Linked DNA regions of Homo sapiens: region 1 is linked to region 2. Evidence: fine-mapped expression QTL. A gene starts in region 2. The other region holds a variant in brackets. All regions are shown on one strand. Distances are between the middles of the regions. Region 1 holds the start of BNIPL (BCL2 interacting protein like). Region 2 holds the start of PRUNE1 (prune exopolyphosphatase 1).

Region 1 (2,799 bases), 28 kb after region 2:
AGAACTGGAATGAGAGGCCTGGGTCTGTCTCCTGCCTTAGCAGGCCTATCAATTTCTTGTCAATCTCTTTTTTTCCTTGCTCACATTAAAAGGAAGCATGGAGTTCTAATGCTCCCATAAACTATGTATTTTGGCAAGACACTTCACTACTCCAGGTCTCACTTTCCCCATCTGTAAAACAGGGTTTGGACTAGGTGTTCCCTGGTATTCTGTGATCTGCCTCTTGCTGCCATTCTTTCTCTCCTCTGCTTCTCTGTATTTTTCTTCTGTTATCCCTGGGGGTGCTCAGGTTCACTTGATTGTCTGTATTTCTGTGTGGTTGTAGCAAGGACTCAGCCTCATGTAGCACGAATAGGGGTGTGGTTCATGGCGTGTTGACCCAGCAGAGCACTCCCTCCCACTAACTTGTTCTGCATGTGTAGAGTCTCCCCATTTTTTTTAACGCAACCCTTTCCCCTTTTTCCTACCCCACAGCTCTGTTCCATGTAAGTTGCCAACAGTTTCACTGAACAGTGGGGTATGTGATGGTTTTGGCATGACATCTTCAGTATGAGGGGGACAGTTTGACTTCACTTTGAGGGTGTGATGTCTGTAGCTATGTGGAAGGTAAAAATAGTGGTGTGATCATGAACCAAAGGAATTTATGTTTTGTAACTTGGGTACTTTATTTTGCATTTTGTTATACTATTAAATAATTTTTTCCTGTTTGGGGGTCTTACTGTCTTTTTTTACAAGTGTATTCAGGCCTTTCTCTGTGATAGTTGTTTCAGTCTCCTCAAAATTGATCCCCCTTCTTCCTACTATACTTAATGTCTTCTTTCTGTTGACTCTTTTTGGGAATAAGGAGCAACAGGCTTCTGTCTCCCCTCATCCTCAGCCTCCCGTTCAACTTGTTTATTCTCCCAGAAACCTCCTTATAACATACTTCCGTTTCCCCAGTTTTCCTTATGCTTGAAAAGTAGATCCAAGATAACAGTCCTAGAAACACACACAATGGTTTCTTTTTCTTTTTTTTTTTTTTTTTGAGATGGAGTTTTGCTCTTTTTGCCCTGGCTGGAGTGCAATGGCACAATCTCAGCCCACTACAACCTCTGCCTCCCAGGTTCAAGCGATTCTCCTGCCTCAGCCTCCCAAGTAGCTGGGATTATAGGCATGTGTCACCACGCCCAGATAATTTTTTTTTTTTTTTTTTTTTTTTTTTTTTTTTGGATTTTTAGTAGAGATGGGGTTTCTCCACATTGGTCAGGCTGGTCTCAAACTCCCGACCTCAGGTGATCCGCCTGCCTTGGCCTCCCAAAGTGTTGGGATTACAGGTGTGAGCCACCACGCCCGGCCAGAAACACAACGGTTTCTACTGGTTTTTTTGCTT[A/G]TTTGTGTAAAGAGCAACTTTGAGAGGGATATATGGAGTCTGGAAAGGAGAACAAATTGCCTTCCTAGACTCAACCGAGACTGGCCCCCACTAGAAAATGCACTCTCCTCCCCAAAACCCGCCCCCTCACAGGAGGCAGGGTTTTTCTTTTGGGCAAACCTGCTCCTGGGGAGAGGAGTGGCAAAACCTGTTTTGAAGATGAGGTTACCTCCCTTCCACACCTCCCTCCTTGGAGGCAAGAGCTACAACAGCTGAGACAGAAAAGAGGTAAGGAAGTGTTGGGGGCTGGGACAACCAGCTCCCCAACAACTCCTAGGTGTTTAAAGAAGGAGGCAGGAAGACTTGTGAAGATGGGAACTATACAAGAGGCAGGAAAAAAGACAGATGTTGGGTAAGTAAGATCTTGGCTCACTTGATTGGTAACAGTGAATAAACAGTCCGGAGAGACTTCCCCACCACCCAGCTCTTACTGGGTCAAATCTCGGGTTCCTCAAGGAGACAAGACTGTAAGAGAGTTTGCAGAGAAGAGATGAGGGTGGTTTTAGGTAGGAAATGTCAGTATGGTATGGAACTGGGGAACAGGATTCCAGGATAATTCCCTGGTTTAAAAATAAAGGAAGTTTCTGTAATATGTTGTACCTGATAAATCTGCCTGTGTTCTTTTATTTTCTAACCCTCACCCTCCAGAATGGCCATCAGGAAAGCTGAACCAGAACCGAGTTTAGGTCCAGGTTCTCGTTCTGGCAAATCTTTCTCCTTACCTTCTTCCTCCACCCCTCCACTTATGCCATGTTTTCCCTTAGCCACTCCCCAGCTCGGTGGAGGAAAGGCAGGCCTAACTAGGTACCGTCTTCCCGACTTTGCTCAATGATAGCTGGGTGGGTCTAGCTGGGTTCCAGCCACTTGTAATGTGGGACATCTCTCACCCCAACTTTGTAGGTGGAGCAACTGCTACAGAGGTAAATATGATTAACTTTACATTCCATCTTTCGTCTGCTCCCAAACTTAACAGCAGGTAATCTGCTTCTAGCAAGTGGTGAAGGTAAGAGAAGCATCTGTATAGGAGGCAAGAGATCTGAGTCCTTTTGAAGGCCTATCCTCTGCTCTGTATCTCAATTACTGTTCTTCATTTCAATTATTCTTACCTACTATTCAGTTCCCTTGATCTTTTCTTCTTGGGGGCTGTCTTAGGGTCAGGGAGATTGCAGAAGCACCAGAACTAGGAGCAGCCCTGAGACATGGGGAGTTGGAGCTGAAGGAGGAATGGCAGGATGAAGAATTCCCTAGGTGAGGACGTGTGAGGGTGGCTGGGAGAAGGGAGGGGTGGTCACGAATGGACGGAGGGGATGGCGCGGCGGCTCATGGCTGTAATCCCAGCACTTTGGGTGGCCGAGGCGGGTGGATCACCTGAGGTCAGGAGTTTGAGACCA
Region 2 (2,799 bases):
TTTGTGATCAGCAGAGAGGGAGCGAGAAACAGGAGAGAAAAACAACAGACCCTTTCTCTTCCCTCTGCCTGCCTCTAGAAGGGACGGAGCGCTTGTGCCTCTCTGGTGAGAATAGGGAAGAGCAAGTGCCCTTGCTAAGTAGGGAGGAGAAGGGCTGGACAGAAGCAGCTTGTTGGATCTGGGCTCTCTCTCTGGGTATGGCAGTCCTTTGCTCTGGATCCACAGAAGCAGGAGCAAAGAGCACGATATTTGCATGTATTACTCAATTAATGTTAAAAACAAACAAACAAACCCAGCTCTTTTCCCTCTGGAGCCCTCCAGAGAGCTCCTTTCCAAGTCCTTGCTGTATCATTTTTAAGTCTAGAAATGAAACTGGTTGGGTTGTGCACCTGGTAGAGTGCAGAGGGTGTGGTAGAAGCCCCAGGCTCTGGGCGCGATGGCTGACGCCTGTAATCCCAGCACTTTGGGAAGCCAAGGCGGGCGGATCACAAGGTCAAGAGATCAAGACCAACCTGGCCAACATAGTGAAACCCCATCTCTACTAAAAATACAAAAATTAGCAGGGCATGGTGGCACATGCCTGTAGTCCCAGCTACTCGGGAGGCTGAGGCAGGAGAATCGCTTGAACCCGGGAGGTGGAGGTTGCAGTGAGCCAAGATCCTGCCACTGCACTCCAGCCTGAAGACGGAGCAAGACTCCGTCTCAAAAAGAAGAAGAAGAAGAAAAGAACTGGCAGAGCAGGCAGGAGATCCAACACGCCTGTGCTCTGGATCTTGGTTCCACTGCAGGCCTCTCATCAGTCACCTCCTCTCGATTTACAGCTGGGGAAGCAGGAAAAGCTGGTGTGAGGCTGACGGTAGGAAATAAAGGGATAGATAAATAAATGAGGGAATTTTTGATGATGAGTGTCCATTTATTTGCAGTACCTGCACTACTCTGCGGCTGGAAAGTGGCAGTTAAGGGAGGTTGGAACCTAACTCCACATTCTGAAGGGTTCCCTAAACTCTATGTACAGGGCCGCCACAGGATGAAATTTCAAGCAACTCTAAAGGCTGAAAGAGCAATTGGAACAATTAGGGTGGCAGAGAGCAAAAAGCCAAGGTTACAACCGTCCAAGAAAGGAAGAAGATATTTGCCGAGGCTGTAGAAAAAAACAGGCTACAGAGTTGCAAAGGGAGAAGCAGCAGGAGTTGGCAGGAGACTGTAGGTGTTAACAAGAGGGGTCAAAGATTATTCTAATGTTCTCCTAACATGAACAACCACAAAATTGGTGGCGACTGAGTCAGTTTGGTAAAGGGCAGAATTTGTAGAAAGAAGATGATCTGTTTTGCCAAGTGTCATTTAAAATGTCACCAGATGCTCGGTGTGATATATGTAAAGATGTTATACTTGGCCTGATCTGAGAGGGAAAGTTCAGATGCCACAATAATGGGTTACTGTGACACATACACATTTGTTTACCGAACGACTGATCCCTCAGAAAACAATCCTTCCCTCGGTTGCTAGGGACATTGCGGAGTTGCGGGACTACGTTTCCCACGTCGCCCCACGCCACGCCCCCTTGGCCTCGCCGGAAAGACGTCCCAGGAGCCTCTGGGCGTAGAGCCCCGCCTCCGCCGCTGGGGGCGGGGCGACGCCGGACTCCGGAGCGCCCGCTTACGCAGTTCCTCCCGGGGTCGGAGGCCGATTCGCCGTGTGGCGGGTTCGAGTCCCGCCTCCTGACTCTGGCCTCTAGTCCCTGAGTCCCGGGCGGGCTGCATTCGTCGGGGAAACCTCTCCTCGACCAGGGGCACCTCTACTCGACCAGGGGCGACGGCGTACTTTGGGCTTCATCATGGAGGACTACCTGCAGGGTTGTCGAGCTGCTCTGCAGGTAACGAATCCCTGTCTGTGACTGTAAGGAATGGAGCACGGGGTCCAGGAAGGACGAAGACGTGGGATCTGGGGGAGCCTCGACGGTCCGTGTGGAGGGAACACTGAGTTGTGGGGAGGGGGGTTGGGGCCTGATCAGTTTTGGGGCATGAGGAGCGAGGAGCGAGAAGCCAGTTTAGGAGCGTGAGAATGCTGCTTGTTCAGTCTCCCGGTTTTTGGCTCCCCGCCTTTGGGGTCCGCCTGAGAGCGGGGAGAAGTCTTGGGTCTGAATCCTGCATTTGAGCCTCTGCTTGCTGTCATCTTGGTCAGTTCCATCAAAAAAACCAGGACTGTGCCGCCGCCAGCCTAGCCCCGCGAGGTGTGTTTATTCTTTTCTCCCCGCCCCTCTTTGAGTTCTCCGCTCCCAAGGCTTCGCTTGGCCCACTGGCCTCCAGGTGAACCTCGGGGGTGTGGAGGGAACCGGTGCTCACGGCCTTATTTCCTCCGAATGGCAGTTTCTGTCTGGCGGGCTGAACTCATTTCTAGGTTAGAAGTAGTCACAGTATTTTACTTTAAGTCAGTGTTTTTAAGCCAAACATACAAAATCCATCAGGCATATTTGTTGACCCACAACCAGCATTCCTTTGCCTCCAGGTTTCTCCTTTGGCCTTAACGCACACAAATGACATAAAAATTCTCCACTTGGAAGGGATAAGCACAAAGTGTGTTTGGAATCAAAACCATAAATATGACTACTCAATGCTTTGTGGCTTATTTTTGGTGCTCTCTGACTCAGTTGGACTCACCCAGCCATGCTGAGCCGTCATGAGGCATTAGGCTGTTATCCCCAGTTAGCAGCAAAAAGCTAACCAGAGACAGGCTCCAGGAGGTCACCCGGCCCCTCTACTTTGAGTTATACTGCCCTGAAGAAACCTAGATAGATGGCTT

What was found.
Region 1: its variant is fine-mapped to the expression of PRUNE1 in whole blood (INTERVAL, PIP 0.98).

Annotation. Positions count from the first base shown.
Region 1 is chr1:151,035,007-151,037,805 of GRCh38, forward strand. It overlaps PRUNE1 (prune exopolyphosphatase 1), which reads left to right. Exons shown (of 8, transcript NM_021222.3): 8 at 1-707. It overlaps BNIPL (BCL2 interacting protein like), which reads left to right and starts at 1,580. Exons shown (of 10, transcript NM_138278.4): 1 at 1,580-1,760; 2 at 2,561-2,656. The coding sequence starts at 1,720. The variant A/G (reference allele first, on the strand shown) is at 1,370.
Region 2 is chr1:151,006,799-151,009,597 of GRCh38, forward strand. PRUNE1 (prune exopolyphosphatase 1) reads left to right here and starts at 1,651. Exons shown (of 8, transcript NM_021222.3): 1 at 1,651-1,873. The coding sequence starts at 1,835. MINDY1 (MINDY lysine 48 deubiquitinase 1) reads right to left here and starts at 104. Exons shown (of 10, transcript NM_001376665.1): 1 at 1-104. RefSeq lists enhancers at 1-9, 1,502-2,044, 2,045-2,585, 2,241-2,290.